Homo sapiens: one gene and its partners. The protein of the gene in region 3 purifies or fractionates together with the protein of the main gene of each other region. This does not show direct contact. Each region holds a gene or a part of one and is shown on either strand. Other genes may lie near its edges.

Region 1 (7,109 bases), about 190 Mb from region 3:
TTTTGCCTTATGATAGGGTTATATACCAATAAAACCCTTGTAAATTTAAAATATTCTAAGTTCAAAATGCATTTAAGACACCTAAACTATCAAATATAGGTTAGTCTGGCCTACCTTAAATGTGCTCAGAACTCTTATATTAGCCTACAGTCGAGGAAAATCATCTAACACAAAGCCCATTTCATTATAGTGTTGAATATCTCGTGGAATTTATTGATACTGACAGTGAAAAACAGTGGTCATATGTGTACTCACTGTAAACATACACAGTTGAAAGCACTCTGGGCCTGAAGAATGTTTGAAGCATTGAACTAAAAGTTAATTGCTGGATTATGGAGAAGCTACATCAACAGGGTCACCAGTTGCTCTTCTAAGCATTGGAGCCCATTGACACTTGTTGATGGTTTAGCAGGCATAGTGTTCAAGAAGATATCAAGTATTGGTTGTTTACCCTTGTGATCGTGTGGCTGACTGGGAGCTGCAGCTCACTCTGCTGACCAGCATTGAAAGAGTATCATATTATGTCACTAGCCTGGGAAGAGATCAAAACTCAAAATTTGAAGTATGGTTTCTACTTTATACCGTTGTAATTCCAAAAATCATGAGTCAGGGACTATCTGTACATGCCTTTATAGCCTCACCTTACTGTCAGTTTCTTACACTTTCATAGGACCTTGACTGTATCACTGTTTGAGGTTGTGAACAGTTTTGAGAATAGACACATGATAATCAATGAATACATATTTTTTGAGTGAATGACCATGTAATCTCTGCTTGGAGTGTCCCAAATGTTGCATTGAAATTGTCAGATTTCTTGTTTGTATTCTTCACTAAACTTTAGCTTTAAAGGGACTAGAACCATGTCTTACCCACCTCTGTATTTTCAGTGGCTAGCACAGAACAGGTGATAAGTAAAGGGTTAAGAGAACTTAATATTGGGGCCGGGTGTGGTGGCTCATGCCTGTAATCCAGCACTTGGGGAAGCTGAAGTGGGAGGATCTCTTGATACCATGAGTTTCGAGACTGGCTTGGACAACAAAGTGGGACTCTATAATAAACCTACAAAAAATTAGCTGGGCATGGTGGCATGGGCTTGTAGTCCCAGTTACTCAGGAGGCTGAGTGGAAGGATCACCTGACTGGGGAAGTCAAAGTTGCATTCGGCTGTGATTGTGCCACTGCACTCCAGCCTAGGCGATAGTGAGACCCTGTTTCAAAAAAAAGAAAAAAAGAACTTAATGTTTTTCAAGATACAGTATGTTCTCTCTGACTACGGGTTCAGTATATGTGAATTCAGCCAACTTTGGATGGAAAATATTTGGGGAAAAATACCTGCATCTGTATTGAACATGTACAGACTTTTTTCTTGTCATTATGTAAACAATACAGTATAAAGGATTTATACTGTATTAGTGTTTATAAGTAATTTAGAAATGATTTGTAGTATATGAGAATGTCTGCATAGGTTATATGCAAACCTTACACCATTTTATATAAGGAGACTTGAGCATCTGTGGATACTGGTCAGAGAGTTCTGGAACCAATCTCCTACAGATTTTGAGGGACAGCTGTACAACAGAAAGGACAACAGATTAAATTTTCCATTCAGTTAACAGTAGGAATGAGGTGGTTTCGTTACATATAAATCATTACTAGAGTATGAAGGATGTATCTTCAGATACTCTCATCAAGTGGAATAGGTATGGCATGACCAGTTTTATGTTGAATTGTTGCAGATGTATTCTAACAAAGTTTGTTTGGGGTTTTGTTTGCTAGGAAGAGGCATCTCCCTACACTTTGGTCAACATCTGCCTGAATGTCCTGATTGCTAACCTGGAGAAATTGTGTTCTGAAAGACCTGATGGAACACTGTGCCTTCCGGAGCATTGGAGTTTCCCTCAGGAAGTAGCCGAGCGATTTCTCAGGGTGATGACTTGGCAAGGTAGTGATAAGGCTTCTCTAAAGTCAGCTCTTGCAGTACTTTACTATTTGAAAAGCACTTTTACACACAATTTCTATTGTGATTCTCACAAAGTATTTCCATTTCATTTGTCTGGAAGTTGAGACTCACTCTTTCTGGGATTCCATGATGGAAATTGTCTTCTAGGCTAGCCCTGCTATTGACTTGGTTTTCCACTCTTCACTTACGTAAAGTTATCACTCATCCATCTGCTCTCTAGCTTTGTTTTTTTTTTTGAGACGGATTTTCACCCTTGTCGCCAAGGCTGGAGTGTAGTGGCACAATCTTTGCTCACTGCAGCCTCCGCCTGGGTTTAAGCGATTCTCCTGCCTCAGCCTCCTGAGTAGCTGGGATTACAGGCGCCCACCACACCTGGCTGATTTTTGTATTTTTAGTAGAGATGGGGTTTCACCACTTTGGTCAGGCTGGTCTTGAACTCCTGAGTTCAGATGATCCGTCTGCCTTGGCTTCCCAAAGTGCTGGGATTACAGACATGAGCCACTGTGCCCGGCCTGCTCTCTAGCTTTTTCAAAATGCTCTTGCTGTAGTCTTGTTTACCATTCTTTTCATTATGGTTATGAGTCTTACCTCCCATTGTAGCTGGGCTTAAAGAACTCCACTAAAAAAATAAAGGAAAAAAAGGGCATTTTATTATTTATTTATTTATAACCTGGGATTACAGATGTGAGTCACCATGTCCGGTCATAATTTTTGTATTTTTAGTAGAGATGGGGTTTCACCATGTTGGCCAGGCTGGTCTCAAACTCTTGACCTCAAGTGGTCTGCCTGCCTCGGCCTCCCAAAGTGCTGGGATTACAGGCGTGAGGCACCGTGCCTGGCCCATAATCAATTTTAGAACCTCAAACTTTCCATCACCTCAGAAAGAAACCTTGTGCCCGTTAGATTTTATTTCCCTTTTCCCGCATCCCTCCAGCCCTAAGCAACCACAAGTCTACTTTCCATCTCTATGTATGGATTTGCCTATTCTGAACATTTAATATAAATTAAATCATCCAATATGTGGCCTTGTGTGCCGAACTTTTTTCATTTAGCATGTTTAAGGCTCACATTGTGCAACATGTATATCTGTACTCGTTCCTTTTTATAGTCGCATATTCTACTGTATGGACATACCACATTGTATTTATCTGTTTTTCGGTTGATGGACATTTGTGGTGTTCTCACTTTTGGGCTATTATGAATAATATGCTACCATAAAGATATGTGTACAAATTTTATTTTTAAACTTAAAAAATTTATTCTAAACTTTCTCTGCTCCATATGAATCTGCAGGAATGTGTAAGAGTTTCTATGTGGACATAAGTTTTCATTTCTCTGAGTGAAATTGCTGGATCAAATGGTAACTCATTATCTTTTTGAGGAACTGCCAGACTATTGTTTGTGGCTGTACTATTTTACATTCCCATCAGCAGTGTCCAAGGGTTCTAATTTCTCCACGTTCTCACCAAGACTCATCTGACATTTTGATTATAGCCATCCTAGTGGATGTGAAATAGTATCTGTTGTGCTTTTAATTTGCATTTCTTTAATGACTTATGGTGTTGGTATTTACCTGGTATGCCTCCCTATACTGAATTCCTTGTGGTCACAGGTGTCTGATTACCTTACGTGCCTGTTACATAACATGGAATCTCACCATAGAAGATGTGTAGTAGGCCAGGTGCAGTGCCTGTAGTCCCAGCTACTTGGGAGGCTGAGGCAAGGGAATCGCTTGAACTTGGGAAGCGGAGGTTGCAGTGAGCCCCCACTGCACTCCAGCCTGGGTGACAGAGCAAGACTCCATCTCAAAAAAAAAAAAAAAAAAAAAAATATGTGTAGTAAATGAAAAATAGGACAACCCATTCGTTTTACAGATGAGGAAAATGAGGCCCAGAGAGGTAAGTGACTTGTCAAATATTATCTACTAATTTGGTTAAAAATAATATTAGTAGTGCTACTTGTATATTGTATATCCTGTACTTATCTACCTATTTTATTTTGTTCTTCCTTTCTGTGAGCAAGGTTACTGTAGATAAAATTTTGGGCTCTACAGCCAAACTGGGGTTGACTCCTGATTCTGATGGTGACCTTGGATAAATTACTTAACCTATTCAAGTTTCAGTTTCCTCAGCTACATAGTAGTAGTAACAATAATTCCTTTATAGTATTAATGCAAAGAATACATGAGATAATAATCTTATTAAAGGAGTTTAGAACAATGCTAGCACAGAGCAGTAAATGTTGTCATTATTGTTATTATTAACATCTGTCTTAATTCTTTGCCACATTTTATCCTGGAAAGACATGAGATCTAGTTGTCATTACAAGTTGGTTCTGGTTCTTTCATAGGCAAGCTGACTGACAGAACAGCCAGCATTTTCCGAGGCAACCAAATGAAACTGAAGCTGGTCAATATCCAAAAAGCTAAAATCTCTACAGCTGCATTCATAAAAGCCTTCTGCCGTCATAAGCTCATTGAACTGAATGCTACTGCAGTGCACGCTGACCTCCCAGTTCCAGACATCATAAGTGGACTCTGCAGCAATAGGTGGATCCAGCAAAACCTCCAGTGTCTCCTGTTAGACTCGACAAGCATCCCTCAAAATTCAAGATTACTGTTCTTTAGTCAGCTCACTGGTCTTCGCATTTTAAGTGTTTTTAATGTTTGTTTTCATACTGAAGACCTGGCTAATGTTTCTCAGTTACCAAGACTGGAAAGCTTAGATATCTCTAATACTCTAGTCACTGATATTTCTGCACTGCTTACCTGTAAGGATCGATTGAAGTCTCTCACAATGCACTATCTGAAATGCCTGGCCATGACCAAATCACAAATTCTTGCAGTCATTAGAGAACTTAAATGTCTGCTTCACCTTGATATTTCTGATCACAGGCAACTCAAATCAGACCTAGCTTTTCATTTGCTACAGCAGAAGGATATCCTGCCCAATGTTGTGTCATTGGATATTTCTGGGGGCAATTGCATCACTGATGAAGCTGTAGAACTGTTTATACGACTGCGGCCTGCCATGCAATTTGTGGGACTATTGGCCACGGATGCTGGCTCTTCTGACTTCTTTACTACAAAGCAAGGCTTGAGGGTTTGTTCTTATCTGAATAAGTTTTGTTTCATTTGTTTAGAACATTATTAAACTCGTGCTATAGACCAGACTTTTTACTAGGTATTAGGGTTACAGAGACAGATAAAAAAATCCTTAAAGAGCTTTTTTAATAATTAATGATTATTATGTACCTACTATGTGGAAGGTTGTGAGAATATTATTATTATTTTTTGAGATGGAGTAGTTTTGTATTTTTAATAGAGATTGGGTTTCTTCATGTTGGTCAGGCTGGTCTCGAACGCCTGACCTCAGGTGATCTGCTTGCCTCGGCTTCCCAAAGTGCTGGGATCATAGGCATGAGCCACTGTGCCTGGCCACACGTGAGAATATAATATTAAGATACAGGCTGGGCATGGTGGCTCACACCTGTAATCCCAGCACTTTGGGAGGCCAAGGCGGGCAGATCACTTGAGGTCAGGAGTCCGAGACCAGCCTGGCCAACATGGTGAAACCTGGTCTCTACTAAAAATACAAAAATTAGCCGGTGTGTTGGCGGGCGCCTGTAGTCCCAGCTACTTGGGAGGCTGAGGCAGGAGAATCACTTGAACCTGGGAGGTGGAGGTTGCACCACTGCACTCCAGCCTGGCCAAAAGCGAAACGCAGTCTCAAAAAAAAAAGAAGATATAGTGGGTTCAAGTGATTCTCCTGCCTCGGCTTCCCGAGTAGCTGGGACTACAGGCACGTGCCACCATGCCCAGCTAGTTTTTTATTTTTAGTAGAGACGGGGTTTCACCATGTTGGCCGGGCTGGTCTCGAACTCCTAACCTCAGGTGATCCGCCTGCCTCGGCCTCCCAAAGTGCTGGGATTATAGGCATGAACCACTGCGCCCGGCCCGATTATTATTATTATTTTTTTTTGGAGACTGAGTTGTGCTCTTGTTGCCCAGGGTGGAGTGCAATGGCGCAATCTCGGCTCACTGCAACCTTCGCCTCCCGGGTTCAAGCGATTCTCCTGCCTCAGCTTCCCGAATAGCTGGGATTACAGGTGTGCACCACCACACCTGGCTAATTTTTTGTATTTTTAGTAGAGGCAGAGTTTCACTATGTTGGTCAGGCTGGTCTCGAACTCCCAGACCTCAGGTGATCCACCTGCCTTGGGCTCCCAAAGTGCTGGGATTACAGGCATGAGCCACCATGCTTGGCCCAGAGCTGTTGTTTTAAAGTAACTCTTTCTTTATAATAATACCTCCTTAGTTCTTCCTAGGGGAAGAGAATAAAGTGATTTGTATACTCATTAGTTGTGTTAACATTTTATTCTTTTGATTTGAAGTTAGCAATTGTTGTATTTTAATTAATTAATTAATTAATTTTTTATTGAGACAGAGTCACTCTGTTGTTCAGGATGGAGTGCAGTGGCACAATCTTGGCTCACTGCAACCTCTGCTGTGAGCTGAGATCCCCAAATTTTTTTTGGGACAGTCGAGTCCTGCTCTGTCGCCCAGGCTGGAGTGCAGTGGTCCGATCTTGGCTCACCACCAAGGATTATCTCTTCCCCCCTTGGATAAACTTGGCATCTTTGTTGAAAATCGGGTGTCCGTATATGTGTGAGTCTGTTACTGGGCTCTTTATTTTTTATTTTTTTTGAGACGGAGTCTTGCTCTGTCGCCCAGGCTGGAGTGCAGTGACACGATCTCTGCTCACTGCAATCTCCGCCTCCCGGGTTCACGCCATTCTCCTGCCTCAGGCTCCAGAGTAGCTGGGACTATAGGCACCCACCACCACGCCTGGCTAATTTTTTGTATTTTTAGTAGAGATGGTGTTTCACCGTGTTAGCCAGGATAGTCTCGATCTCCTGACCTCGTGATCTGCCTGCCTCATCCTTCCAAAGTGCTAGGATTACAGGTGTGAGCCACCACGCCCAGCTGGGCTCTTTATTTTTATCTGTTTGTGTATTGCCTTTTTTTTTTTTTTTTTTTTTTTTTTTTGAGACAGAGTCTCGGTCTGTCACCCAGGCTGGAGTGCAGTGGTGTGATCTCGGCTCACTGCAACCTCTGCCTCCCGGGTTCAAGTGATTCTCCTGGCTCAGCC
Region 2 (7,109 bases), on a different chromosome or scaffold from region 3:
GATTATTGAATAACTTTCAGTTGTAACTCTTGTTAAAACAGTACTAAGATAAAAATCCTTACTAATAAAATTTCCAAATTACAATTAGTTAGTGGTCCATTTATTTCCATTAGTTTTTGTCATTGGCAGAATTTTGAGTATGTAAGAATAACTTAGCCCTTAGTTGACACTTGTTTTAGCAGGATTTATAGTAAAGTAGATTTTTTAAAATTTATTTTTATTTTTTATTTTTTTCCTCATCCTGACTCTCAAGTTAAAAATTGCGTTCATAGATTTCATTAGAGGTAACCTGAAAGTTACTTTTGGTATTTTAAAAATCATACTTGTCAGTCAAGTCAATTGTCATTTCGTAGCTTCTGTTTAGTACTAATATGTAGTAGAAGTATTTGTTATGACATTTAAAAAAGTGTTGCCCGATCATTAAAAAGTCAGGAAACAACAGGTGCTGGAGAGGATGTGGAGAAATAGGAACACTTTTACACTGTTGGTGGGACTGACTGTAAACTAGTTCAACCATTGTGGAAAACAGTGTGGCGATTCCTCAAGGATCTAGAACTAGAAATACCGTTTGACCCAGCAATCCCATTACTGGGTATATACCCAAAGGATTATAATAATCATGCTGCTATAAAGACACATGCACACGTATGTTTATTGTGTCACTATTCACAATAGCAAAGACTTGGAACCAACCCAAATGTCGATCGATGATAGACTGGATTAAGCAAACGTGGCACATATACACCATGGAATACTATGCAGCCATAAAAAATGATGAGTTCATGTCCTTTGTAGGGACATGGATGGAGCTGGAAACCATCATTCTCAGCAAGCTATCGCAAGGACAAAACACCAAATGCATGTTCTCACTCATAGGTGGGAATTGAACAATGAGAACACTTGGACACAGGAAGGGGAACATCACACACCGGGGGCTGTTGTGGGGTAGGGGGAGGGGGGAGGGATAGCATTAGGAGATATACCTAATGTAAATGACAAGTTAATGGGTGCAGCACACCAATATGGCACATGTATACATATGTAACAAACCTGCACGTTGAGCACATGTACCCTAAAACTTAAAGTATAATAAAAAAAAAAAGTGTTGCCATGTTAAAACAATTTAAATGAAATTTTTAAAACATAAAATTTATCTCTATGTAAAATCCTTCCATCCTAACATAACAGCTGTTATTTTTTCCATTTTCCTTTCTAGGCTTTATTCATATATAGTATGATGTAATTTTTAAGAGACTGGGGCCTCACTATGTTGCCCAGTCTGGCCTCGAGCTCCTGGGTTCAAGCGATTCTCCTGCCTCGGCCTCTTCAGTAGCTGGGACTATAGGCTGTGCCACCACACCTGGCTTTATAATGTAATTTTAAGGAAATGAACCTAAAGTTAAGTCAGATATGATTTACTATATGAAGATACAAGAGTATTTCAAGTTGAAGGGGTTAGCCGTGTTTGGGGTAGTGTACCAGTAACCTCCAAAAACTAGACATTTGGTTTAATTTTGTGACTGTTTTGTTTTTAAACATTAGTTTGCTTTTCATTCTATAGCCAGATTTTCTTGTTGTTACAAGGGAAAATTGTCCTGGTTCCTTCTTGAAACTAGTGAGGGAGGCATAGTGAGATGGAAAGAATGGGCTGTGGCATCAGAGACTTGGGTTCAGATTCTTGGTCTGTTGTGTTCATTAGCCTCTGAGAGCCTTACTTTCTTCCCCTGTAAAATGGCAGTAGTCTTTTTTTCTTTTCTGTTTTTTCATATGAAGTCTTGCTCTGTTGCCCAGGCTGGAGTGCAGTGGTGCGATCTTGGTTCACTGCAACCTCCGCCTCCCAGGTTCAAGTGATTCTCCTGCTTCAGCCTCCCGAGTAGCTGGGACAACAGGTGCGTGCCACCATACCTGGCTAATTTTTGTATTTTTAGTAGAGATGGGGTTTCACCATGTTGACCAGGATGGTCTCCATCTCTTGATCTCCTGATCCACCTGCCTTAGCCTCCCAAAGTGCTGGGGTTACAGGTGTGAGCCACCATGCCCAGCCAGTAGTCTTTTTTCCAGTGGGCCTTCTTGTGAGGATTAAAGGAGAGAATGTATGTTAAGTGTTTTGAGTAAAGTGGGCTACCCACTGATGCCATCATTAATAAATATCTAATTTTGAATTTTATTTTAGCACTTTATTCCATGAATAAAGTGATTGATTTGGAAAGGTCTTTTAAAATTCTTTTAAACAATCAACTCCCAGCAGGCAAAAAAAGCAAGATGATGTGCATATTTTGAATATTGGTAAAAATCTTTCATACTACCTTGATTTCATAAAGTAGTAGCAAATAGGACTTAGTTCTGTCTAATAAACCAAAACATGCCTGTATGTCCTGATAATATGTTTGCTTAATTAGCTTGTCTTAATAGTTTCACATCTGTTTAGTCAGGAAAGGCAGGTGGTGTGGTAGAAACAGTGGCCTCTGCAATGGGATAGACTTGGGTTCAGATACCTGCCTTTTCCACTGAATAGTTGTGTGATAGCCTTTGAAGTCTGTTTCCTCATCCTTGCAGGATTTTTCTGAAAATAAATGGGATAATAGTCAAGGATTTCTTTTTCCTTTAACTTAGTATTGTACATGGCTCTCCACTTTTTTTTTTTTTTTTTTTTGAGGCAGAGTCTCGCTCTGTCACCCAGGCTGGAGCGCAGTGCTATTTTAGCCATGCCCAGCTAATTTTTGTATTTTTAGTAGAAACGAGGTTTCACTGTGTTAGCCAGGATGGTCTCAATCTCCTGACCTTGTGATCCACCCATCTCAGCCTCCCAAAGTGCCGGAATTACAGGCGTGAGCCACCGCGCCCGGCCGGCTCTCCACTGTTTGTACCCATTTTGACAGTGTCTTTCTGAAGTTCAACGAATATAACTTCTTCTATGATGTGTCAGTGCTTCTTATTAATGCCTGAACTTATCAAGGTAATGCTCCAGAAAGTAAAACACGTTCAAGATTCGTTTTTGCTTTTACCTGATGTATCGAGTTCTAAAATGTAGTAATGTAAACATGGCCGGGTGCGGTGGCTCATGCCTGTAATCCCAGCACTTTGGGAGGCTGAAGTGGGCAGATCACTTGAGGTCAGGAGTTCAAGACCAGCCTGGCAAACATGGTGAAACCCCATCTCAACTAAAAATACAAAATTTAGCTGAGCACTGTGGCATGTGCCTGTAATCCCAGCTACTTGGGAGGCTGAGGCAGGAGAATCTCTTGAACCTGGGAGCCGGAGGTTGCAGTGAACCAAGATTGTGCCATTGCACTCCAGCCTCGGTGACAGAGTGAGACCGTGCCTCCAAAAAAAAAAAAAAAAGTAAGTAATAGTAATATGAGTTATTAGCTAATGAGCATTTTGTATTCACATCAAAATAGGTGATCATCATATGTATTAATGTTATAAATATGTATTATGGGCATTTCTAGATCTTGCTACTAAATCTGAATATAATTTGAAAGTTATGTCCTCTGGAAATTGAGCATCTCAGAAGATGCTTTTAGGTGCTAGTAGGCTTTATTTAAAAAATAATGATGTCACTTAATTTTGAGGGCACAAAAGGATATACAGTAAAAAGTCCGTTGTCTTCCCTTTCCTGTCTCCTGGTTACTTGGTTCCTCTTCCCAGAGGAAACCACTGTTAATCATTTCCTAGTGTATCCTTCAAGAGATATCCAAGGAACATTGTTTTGAGTCTGGATTCCAAAGTTATTGAACACAGTGGTAAAAAAATCTTTTTTGATATGTTTACACTAAAAGGTAAAAAAATACCTGTACAGGAACAAGTTTTTTAACTTTAAATTGTCTACTTTATGTTAGGTCTTGGAAAGATATGGTGATGACCAAAACAAATACAGCACCTTATGTGCCTAATAGTCTAATAGGGAAAACAGATAATTGTGGGGAAAAAATGTGGTTACAAACTGTGTTAAATGTCATGAAGGAAAAGCTCAGGGTACTGTGACAGCATGAAGCAGGGACAAGACCTGGAGAGGTGGGGATGGGCAGAGTGGTCTTTGGGGAAGTGGTTTTTCTTTTTTTTTTTTTCAAGACAAGAGTCTTGCTCTGTCACCCATGCTGGAGTGTAATAGCGTGATCTGAGCTCACTGCAACCTCCACCTCCCAGGTTCAAGTGATTCTCCTGCCTCAGCCGCCCCAGTAACTGGAATTACATGCACACGCCACCATGCCTGGCTACTTTTTGTATTTTTAAGTAGAGATCGGGTTTCACTATGTTGGCCAGGCTGGTCTCGAATTCCTGACCTCAAGTGATCCGCCCGCCTTGGCCTCCCAAAGTGCTGGGATTACAGGTGTGACCTTTTTTTTTTTTTTTTTTTTTTAAATTAGATGGAGACAAGGTCTCACTAGGTTCCCCAGGCTGATCTAGAACTCCTGAGCTTAAGTGATCCTCCCGCCTTGGCCTTCCAGAGTGCTGGGATTACAGGCGTGAGCCACCGTGCCTGGCCAAGAAAGGGGAAGTGGTTTTTCCTAGAGCTAGGAAGGATGAGTAAGGAGAGATAGGAAGTGGGAACAAAACAAACAAATGCTTGTAGACTTGATAGGAGGCTATGATCCAGAGAGATAGAGGGTTTTGTGATAAAAGTAGAAAGTTGAATATATTTGAGAGAGATTTGGAAGGCAAGATAGTCAGGATTTGTCGAATGATTAAATATGAGAGAGGGAGAAGGAAGTGTCGTGGATGACTCAGGTTACAATGGATGATGATGCCACTCACTGAGAGAGAACACTGGAAAGAGGACCATGTTTGAGAGATTGAGATCATGAGTTTGGGTTTGGATATGTTGAGTATGAGGTACTTTTGAGACATCTCAGTGGAGATATTAAGTAAGCAGTTGTATAAATGGAAATTGGAGGTGAAGCCTGGATTAGAGAAAAATTTTAGAGTCAAGCACCTGTGGAGGTTAATTGTGGCCATGGGATGTGATTGAGATCTAGGGCAGTGATGCTTAAACTCTATGGTCTCAGGACTTCCTTAAGCTCTTAAAAATTATTGTGGATCCTGAAGAACTTTTGTTTATGTTAGTATGCTTACTGCTATTTGCCATATTCAGAATGAAACTGGGAAGTTGTTTTTTTTTTTTTTTTTTTTTTTTTGAGATGGAGTCTTGCTCTGTCACCCAGGCTGGAGTGCAGTGGCACAATCTTGGCTCACTGCAACCTCTGCCTCCTGGGTTCAAGTGATTCTCCAGCATCAGCCTCCCTAGTAGCTGGGATTACAGGTGTGCGCCACCGTGTCCAGCTAATTTTTGTAGTTTTAGTAGAGACGGAGTTTCACCATGTTGGCCAGGCTGATCTTGAACTCCTGACCTCAGGTCAGAACCCAGGAGGCGGAGCTTGCAGTGAGCCGAGATCGCCCCACTGCACTCCAGCCTGGGCGACAGAGCAAGACTCTGTCTCAAAAAAAAAAAAAAAAATTATAATAATAAACCCCTTACATGTTAAAATTTTTTTGTGAAAAATAACTTTTTTAAAAGAAAACATTTTGGGAGAATAGAGGCATTAATTTACATTTTTGCAAATCTCCTTAAAGTCTGCCTTAATGGAAGATAGCTGGATTCTCATATCTGCTTCTGCATTCAGTTTGTTGCATTATGTTATTTTGATTGAAATATATGAAAAAATCATCCACAGATGTATTTGGGAAAGGGAAGAAGAATATTATATTTTTTAACGTAATCATGGATATGCTTCTTTGATAACATGTCAAAATTCAACAAGTGATAGTTTCTTAAGGATTAGTTATAATGTGGATTCTGTTTTTTTTTTTTTTTTTTTCTTCGAGGCAGATTCTCGCACCCAGGTTGGAGTGTAGTGGTGCGATCTTGGCTCACTGCAACCTCCACCTCCTAGATTCAAGCAGTTCTCCCGCCTTAGCCTCCTGAGTAGCTGGGACTACAGGCGCAGACAACCACACTGGAATAATTTTTTTTATTTTTAGTATTTTATGTTGGTCAGGCTGGCCTCGAACTCCTTACCTCAAGTGATGCACCTGCCTTGGCCTCCCAAAGTACTGGATTACAGGCATGAGCCACTGCACCCTACCAGGATTAGTTATAATGTGGATTCTGATATCATATCAGTGAACTTATACTCACTCTGTTACATTAAAATCTGATGGTCTGTCTTATACTTTGAGTGACTGTTTTACCCATGTTTACTTTTGCAAAAATTATGCATTGGTCATGTGGAAAATATCAGTCCACTGAGTTACACAGATTTTCCAAATGTGGACATATCTCATTCCACAGTGCCAAAAAGTCTTATTTGTCAATATGACTACCACTCTCATCAGACAAGTTTTTAAATATTCAGAAGCTTTCAAGCTCATGGTGTCAAATACAAGTTTTCCAAAAATGTCATTTTTGCTTGTAAAGTTGAGTGTTATGATTGGCAACAAATACAGTTGATCGTTTTCCTTGAAATGAAAGGCATACGTGATTAAATTTTGAAAAAATGTTTGCCAGATAGCCAAGTCTGAATGATCAGTTTGTCTGATAGTCCTTCAAGTAAAAATGGTGTTGCAAGAAAAAAGTGGCTAGTTCAGTCCTCAAGTATGTACTTTGCCATTATTCTTCCGTATGCAGTGCTTTATAATTAATTCCCATTTCCTTTAAGTAGAATATTGAAAAGATGTATCTTCAGGGGTTGAGATTTAGTAAATTTAATAATTTTGCTTCATCTAGTTTATTCTTTAGTGAAACTGGCTTTTTTCTTAATACCAGTGCTTGGCAGTGAAGAATACAGTTATCTAGTACAGGTTAGGGCTACTGCCTTGATTCATGTTAAAGCACCTGCAGTTTTATCCACTATTGCTTTTGCATCATTAGTGCGCATGTCAACACAGGAAAGAAAGTGATTCAAGAAGAGAAAGGGCAATTGTTTTGAATACTAGTGAGAGGTCAAGTAGGGGTTAGATGAAAAGATGTCCTTTAGATTTAGCAACATTCTCAAGGTCATTGATCTTAATGAGAGCTGAGTGGAGTGGTGGTGAGGGGCAGATCTGAATGGGTTGAGGAGTGAGTGGAACATGAAATGGAGGACATGTGGAAACTTTTTTGAAGAATT
Region 3 (7,598 bases):
AAAAACTGCATGTCAAAGGAAACATTCAGTGGAGTCAAAATCCCACCTAAGGAATGAGAGAAAATATTTGAAAAGCAAATATCTGACAGGATATATATAAACAACTACAAAAACTAAACAAAGAAAAAGCAAATAATGCCATTTAAAAGTGGGCAAAAAACTGACCAGTGATATACAAATCCTTAGAAAAATGCAAAGCAGCCAGGCGCAATGGCTCACACCTATAATAAAAATACAAAAATTAGGCCGGGCGCGGTGGTTCACGTCTGTAATCCCAGCACTTTGGGAGGCCGAGGCGGGCAGATCACGAGGTCAGGAGATCGAGACCATCGTGGCTAACATGGTGAAACCCCGTCTCTACTAAAAATACAAAAAATTAGCTGGGCTTGGTGGCGGGCACCTGTAGTCCCAGCTACTGGGGAGGCTGAGGCAGGAGAATGGCGTGAACCCGGGAGGCGGAGCTTTCAGTGAGCCGAGATCGCGCCCCTGCACTCCAGCCTGGGCGACAGAGCGAGACTCCGTCTCAAAAAAAACAAAAACAAAACAAAACAAAACAAAAAAAATTAGTTGGGTGTGTTGGCAGGTAGGTGCCTGTAGTCCCAGCTACTCGGGAGACTGAAGTGGGAGGTTCAGTTGAGCCCAGGAGGTTGAGGCTGCAGTGAGCCAAGATTGCACTACTTCACTCCAGCCTGGGTGAAAGAGTAAGACCCTGCCTCAAAAAAATAAATAAATAAATAAATAAAATAAAAATGTAAAGCAAATCTACCAGATTTCCTTTGCTAACACCCATTACATGGCCACTATCAAGCAAATAAAGAACCCACAAATGGTCTCTAGGATGTGGAGAAACTGAGACCTCTGTGCACTGCTAGTGGGGAAATATTGATCCAGCTACTATAAAAAATAGTACAGAAGTTTCTCTCTCTCTTTTTTTTTTTTTTTCTTTTTGAGACAGAGTTTTGCTCTGTTGCCCAGGCTGGAGTGCAATGGTGTGATCTTGGCTCACTGCAACCTCCGCCTCCCATGTTCAAGTGATTCTCCTGCCTCAGCCTCCCTATAGATGGGATTACAGGCACACGCCACCACACCCGGCTAATTTTTGCATTTTTAGTAGAGACGGGGTTTCGCTATGTTGGCCAGGCTGGTCTCGAACTCCTGACCTCAGGTGATCTGCCCTCCTCGGCCTCCCAAAGTGCTGGGATTACAGGCGTGAGCCACCGCACCCGGCCGTACGGAGGTTTCTCAAACGGAATTATTATATGATATAGCGATTCCACTTCTGGGTGTCTATCCAAAATATGCAAAGCAGGACCTGAAAAACTTACCTGCACACCCATGTTTATTGCAGGAATATTCATGAAAGCGGAAACGTGGACGCAACCCAAGTGTTCTTTGATGAATGAATGCATAAAGAAAATGTGGCATCTGGCCAGGCGCGGTGGCTCACCCCTGTAATCCCAGCACTTTGGGAGGCCGAGGCGGGCCAATCACGAGGTCAGGAGATCGAGACCATCCTGGCTAACACGGTGAAACCCCGTCTCTACTAAAAATACAAAAAATTATCTGGGCATGGTGGCACGCGCCTGTAGTCCCAGCTACTCGGGAGGCTGAGGCAGGAGAATCACTTGAACCCAGGAGGTGGAGGTTGCAGTGAGCTGAGATCACGCCGCTGCACTCCAGCCTGGGCGACAGAGCGTGACTCCATCTCAAAAAAGAGAATAGTAACAACCGATTCAGAAATATGAAACAGATTGAGTATTTTTCCCAAAGAAGACATACAAATGGCCAACAGGCATATAAAAAGGTACTCAACATCACCAGTCATCCCACTAAAAACACACGTCACTCAAATTCTAAAAAGGAATTACATTAAATATAACAAGTATTTGTACAAGAATATTTATAGATCTTTTGTTCATAAAAACCCAAAATAGGAAACAACCCGAATGTCCATCAACAGAAAAATGGTTCAGCAAATTGTAGAGCGGATATTCATACAACAGGATGCTACCCAGCAGTACGAAGACACAAGCCACTGAAGCACACACCCTGACTGCATCTCACAAGCTGGGTATATGAGACAAAGTGGAATAAAATGCATATTGTATGGCTTCAGGCAAAAATGAACCTAGAGTGAAAATAAATCAACACAGCCTCTGAAAGTAGAAAAAAACTGCCTGGGAAGAAATACGAGGAAGTTTTCTGAGAATGATGAAAATATTCCATTCTTAAAAGGGGTGAAGCTTATATGGGTATATTTTATTTTTTAAAAACTGTACATTTAAGATTTGTGCCTTTCAATGTGTGTACATCTGACCTCATGCAAAAAAAAAAGGAACTAAAAAAATACAGCAGTGGGTGCAGAATGGGTTGAAGCATAGATGAAAGAAAAATGGCACAAGATGAGTAGTTCTTGAATCAGGGTGACGGGTCTATTATACTATTTCGTTTATTTTGTATATGGCTAAAATTTTCTGTAATAAAACGCTTGTATGAAAAGGCAAAAGTGATGTACAATGTTAGCTCTTAAGATCTTTAAATGAACCAGTTGTGGTGGTTGTGTGCCTGTAGTCCCAACTACTCAGTTGGCTGAGGTAGGAGGATCGCTAGAGCATCTTCAGCCTGGGTGAAAGGGTTAGACTCTGTCTCAAAAAAAGAAAAAAAAAATCGGCAGGGCACAGTGGCTCACGCCTGTAATCCCAGCACTTTGGGAGGCCAAGGCGGGTGCATCACCTGAGGTCAGGAGTTCGAGACCAGGCTGGCCTATATGGTAAAACCCTGTCTCTACTAAAAATACAAAAATTAGCCGGGTGTGGTGGCAGGCGCCTGTAATCCCAGCTACTCGGGAGGCTGAGGCAGCAGAATCGCTCGATTCCGGGAGGTGGAGGTTGCAGTGAGTCAAGATCGCGCCATTGCACTCCAGCCTGGGGGACAAGAGCGAGACTTCGTCTTAAAATAATAATAATAATAATAATAATAATAATAATAATAATAATCTTACTTACCACTGGGGAGGTAGATAAGGGAGGCAGATAGTAATTGTTGGGATATGAGTGATGCTGGTTCTATTTCTTGGTTATACAACTGTATTTGCTTTGTAATAACTCACAGAGCTTTACATGAATGCTTTGTATTTTTTTGTATGTGTGTTGTGTATCAAAAAAATTATTATATATTTTTACATAAATCCTAACTTAGAATCTCAGAATAACAGTAGTGTTTTATTTTGTTTGAAGTGAGACACACTCACCCATGATACCATCAAATGACTTTAAATATTCTGAGCTATTCATTCATGTTGTAACCTTGGGTGCTCCCCTAGGTCTTTTCAGTTTTACTCCAATTTGGAAAGTGGAATGGTTTCAATCTGGGGGGATGCAACTTTTTCCCAGCAAAGTCCTCTCCCCACAATGATGTTCACCAAGGCCAGGGCAGCTAGTACAGTGCCCTGTGCATAGCAGGGCAGTTGTAGAACTGGGCTGAATCAGAAACAAAATTAGTAGCAACCACTGGTTCAAGGTAAGAGATGCATTAACTGTGCATGAATTCCATATGTGTTGTGAGGGTTTGCCCCATGGCCAGTCCAGGGTTTAGGTCTTAGAAAATAGCTTTGCCCTGTTAAGAACCAAAGAATGACTTCAAGACATACTCAGCTGTTTGGCTAAATTTCTGCAGGAGGAAATGTCTTCACAGCCGATTTTTTTGTTTTGTTTTGTTTTTGTTTTTGAGATGGAGTTTTCCTCTTATTACCCAAGCTGGAGTGCAAAGGCATGATCTCGGCTCACTGTAACCTCCGCTTCCCAGGCTCACGCGAGTCTCCTGCCTCAGTCTCCTGAGTAGCTGGGATTACAGGCGACCACCACCACTCCTGGCTAATTTTTAAAAATACTTTTAGCAGAGACGGGGTTTCGCCATACTGGCCAGGCTGGTCTCAAACTCCTGGCCTCATGTGATCCTCCCTCCTCAGCCTCCCCAAGTGCTGGGATCACAGGCGTAAGCCACCACGACCCGCCAGATCCTAGAAAATTTTAAATGACACGCGTGGCTCACCTTTTATTTATATTGCATATTGCTGCCTGAGAGGATTGCCTCACTTTCCACAGCTCAGGCTGCCTGGTCAAAAGACCAGAGGCCCGGAAGGTTATGAAATCGGAAACTTTAAAATAATTATCATTCATTGTTTCTATTTGTGAAATATATATGTGTGTGTGTGTGTGTGTGTGTGTGTGTGTGTAAAACTTATGAATGGATATAATCTTATATACAAGGTTAAATGCCATTATCCCCCAGGCAGGTGGGTCCAGGTCGAAGTGCCGTGAGGAATGTCGCTTCAAAAGGGCTGCACCCAAAAACCTGTCACTCTTGTTTCATTCGGCCCAGTGTCTGATCGCACCTCCTGTCACTCAAGACCTGAGGGGGTGGGGCCTGGAGCCCCATCCAGTCAGCGGCGCTAGCGTGAGAACTGTCCAATCAGGCGTGCAGCCAGAGAGGAAGGGGCGGCCTTGGGGATCTGGCGGGGCCTTTGTCTCCTTGCGGCCGGCGGGGTGCTGGGTTCCCGTCTGCTGCCTCTCGGAGAGTCCCGGGTGACTGCCGCAGGCTCCATCGCCCTGTGGCCTGCAGGTATTGCGAGATTTATAGGGAGGACGCTGGGACCCCCAAAAGCTGGGAAATGGTGAGTGTGCGGAGCAGGGTGTCCCGAGAAGGGAGAGGGGGTGGTTGGAATCGGTTGGAATTGGCTGGAACCAGCGCTGGCGGCCCCGGGCCTCCCGGCGGTCGGCTCCGGAGTGTGCGGCCGAGTCCCGCTGGCGCAGCTCGGCCCTCAGTCCCGTCCCGCGCAGGTGGGGGCCGGGCCGGCAGCGGGATCCCGGCCGCTGGGTGACTGTCCGGTCTCTGCCTGGTGACTTCGGCACGGCCCAGAGCCCTCCCGGGGCAGCCCCGCGCCCGCAGCGCCGCGTCTTCCCTGGATTGTGCTGTGATGACGGAGGGGTTGTCGGGAGAGTCCCGACTCCCGTGAAAGGTTCCTGGGTGGGAGGAGCTGTGGTCTGTGGGTTCCTTTCTCCTCTTTTTTTTTTTTTTTTTTTTTGAGACGGAGTCTCGCCCTGTCGCCAGGCTGGAGTTCGGTGGCTCGATCTCGGCTCACCGCAACCTCTGCCTCCCAGGTTCAAGCGATTCTCCTGCCTCAGCCTCCCGAGTAGCTGGAATTACAGGCGCCCACCACCACGCCCAGCTAATTTTTGTATTTTTATTAGAAACGGAGATTTCACCATGTTGGTGTCGATCTCTTGACCTCGTGATCCGCCCGCCTCGGCCTCCCAAAGTGCTGGGATTACAGGCGTGAGCCACCGCGCCCGGTCTCCTTTCTCCTCTTAAAAAAATAAACTGAAGCACCTTTGAAATGTTAAGGAGTTTATTCCAGCAAACAGTGATTTATGAATCTGGAAGCCCCTAGCCCTGGTTTGGGGCTAAACTTGAAGGGAAGGTCTTCATAAGGTGCACGAGGAAGCAACCACGTTTAATAATTGATCGGTTGCCATTATGCAGTCACCTTATTTGGACTGTCCAGGATGAAATTTCCTGATTATGTAATAAGAGATTTATTAGCATTTAGTGGTTGGTTAAGCCTACGTTTTGTTTTTCTCCAAGTTTGCAATTTACAAGAAATTCATCTAAGTTAGCTAGGATTCCTTAGATAGAATCCCAGGACATCAAAGCCACTCAGTCTAATTGTCTGCCATTTAAGTATTCTAACACTCCACAGGGGAACTGGTTTTCCCAGCATTTTTCAAATGTATGGCAAGCAGGACCTCAAATCCAGGACTCTGTTCCCCCAGCCTAACTGTTTTAGGGCCTGAAGGAAATCTTGTTTCCAGTTTCTTTTCTACATTCCCAAATGCTAACTTTGTCTCTCCAAACACAACATTATCAACTATTTGTTCTTTTTATTTATTTATTTTTTTTGAGACGAAGTCTCACTCTGTTGCCCAATGGCAGGTAAGCTGAAGTGCAGTGGCACAATCTGGGCTCACTGCAACCTCCACCTCCCAGGTTCAAGCGATTCTCCTGCGTCAGCCTCCTGGTAGCTGGGAATACAGGCAGGCGCCACCATGCCCGGCTAATTTTTGTATTTTTAGTAGAGATGGGGTTTCATTATGTTGGCCAGGCTGCCCTCGAACTCCTGACCTCGTGATCCGCCCGCCTCAGCCTCCCAAAGTGCTGGGATTACAGGCATGAACCACCGCGCCCGGCTTATTTGTCCTTTATTTGCTTTTCAAACAGATGCAAGATTTTAACGGTTCTTTTTTGTTTTTTTCACAGTGCAATGAATGGGCTTTTTTTTTTTTTCTTTTTTTTTTGAGACAGAGTCTCGCTCTGTCGCCCAGGCTGGAGTGCAATGGTGCAATCTTGGCTCACAGCAACCTCTGCCTCCCGGGTTCAAGCGATACTCCTGTCTCAGCCTCCCGAGTAGCTGGGACCACAGGCGTGTGCCACTATGCCTGGCTAATTTTTGGTATTTTTTGTAGAGACAGGGTTTCACCCTGTTAGCCAGGATGATCTCGATCTCCTGACCTTGTGATCCTCCCGCCTCGGCCTCCCAAAGTGCTGGGATTACAGGCTTGAGCCACCGTGCCCAGCCATGAGTGGCTTTTTAAAAAATATTTTCTTTCTGTTCTGAACATTTCACATGAGAAGAAAGCAGAGAATAATCACTTGACACTCTGCTGTAAAATCTTTACTCAGCCAGTGTCCTGGATAGTTTCCTTGATGTTTTCTGTTCATAGTTTGAGGTCTTAGATTTACGTCTTTAATCCATTTTGATTTGATTTTTTGTATATGCCTAGAGACGGGGGCCAAGTTTTTTTGTTGTTGTTTTTTATCGTTTTTTTTGTTTGTTTGTTTTGTTTTGTTTTGTTTTGAGACAGTCTCACTCTGTCATCCCCTGGGCTCAGGCTATTCTCGTGCCTCAGCCTCCCGAGTAAACTGGGACCACAGGTGCAGGCCACCACAGCTAGCTAACTTTTGTATTTTAATAGAGACAGGGTTTCACTGTGTTGGCCAGGCTGGTCGGACTCCTTGGCCAGGCTGGTCTCGAACTCCTGGCCTCAAGTGACCCTGCTGCTTTGGCCTCCCACAGTGCTGAGATTACATGCATGAGCCACCACACCCGGCCAAGGGGTCAAGTTTTATTCTTCTGCATATGAATATCCATTTTTCCCAGCACAACTTATTGAGAGACTGTTGTTTCCCCCAAAGTATGTTCTTGGTGCCTCTGTCACAGATTAATTTGCTGTAGATGTATGGATTTTTTTCTTGGTTCTTTATTTTGTTCCATAGAGCTATGTGTCTTGTTTTATGCTAGTACCATGCTGTTTTTGTTGCTATAGCTCTGTAATATAATCTGAAGTCAAGTAGAGTAATTCTTCCAGTTTTTTCCTTTTTGTTCAGGATGGCTTTGGCTATTCTTAGTCTTTTGTGGTTCCAAAAAAATTTTAGGCTTAGTTTTTCTATTTCTCTGAAGAATGTCATTGGTATTTTGGTAGGTATTACACAGAGTTTATAGATTGCTTTGTGGAGTTACGGACATTTTAACAGTAACATTT

The links.
Region 1: the proteins of ZNF695 (region 3) and ZYG11A purify together in Homo sapiens (affinity purification with mass spectrometry; 2 studies listed by BioGRID and IntAct, with this or other methods). This does not show direct contact.
Region 2: the proteins of ZNF695 (region 3) and HECTD1 purify together in Homo sapiens (co-immunoprecipitation; 3 studies listed by BioGRID and IntAct, with this or other methods). This does not show direct contact.

Annotation. Positions count from the first base shown.
Region 1 is NC_000001.11:52,852,690-52,859,798, forward strand, and holds part of ZYG11A (protein zyg-11 homolog A), read left to right. Parts: intron 1-1,775; coding exon 1,776-1,941; intron 1,942-4,308; coding exon 4,309-5,060; intron 5,061-7,109. UniProt on the Homo sapiens protein: Probably acts as a target recruitment subunit in an E3 ubiquitin ligase complex ZYGA-CUL2-elongin BC.
Region 2 is NC_000014.9:31,197,744-31,204,852, reverse strand, and holds part of HECTD1 (E3 ubiquitin-protein ligase HECTD1), read left to right. Parts: intron 1-7,109. UniProt on the Homo sapiens protein: E3 ubiquitin-protein ligase which accepts ubiquitin from an E2 ubiquitin-conjugating enzyme in the form of a thioester and then directly transfers the ubiquitin to targeted substrates.
Region 3 is NC_000001.11:247,004,980-247,012,577, reverse strand, and holds the start of ZNF695 (zinc finger protein 695), read left to right. Parts: upstream 1-4,520; 5' UTR 4,521-4,669; coding exon 4,670-4,672; intron 4,673-7,598. UniProt on the Homo sapiens protein: May be involved in transcriptional regulation.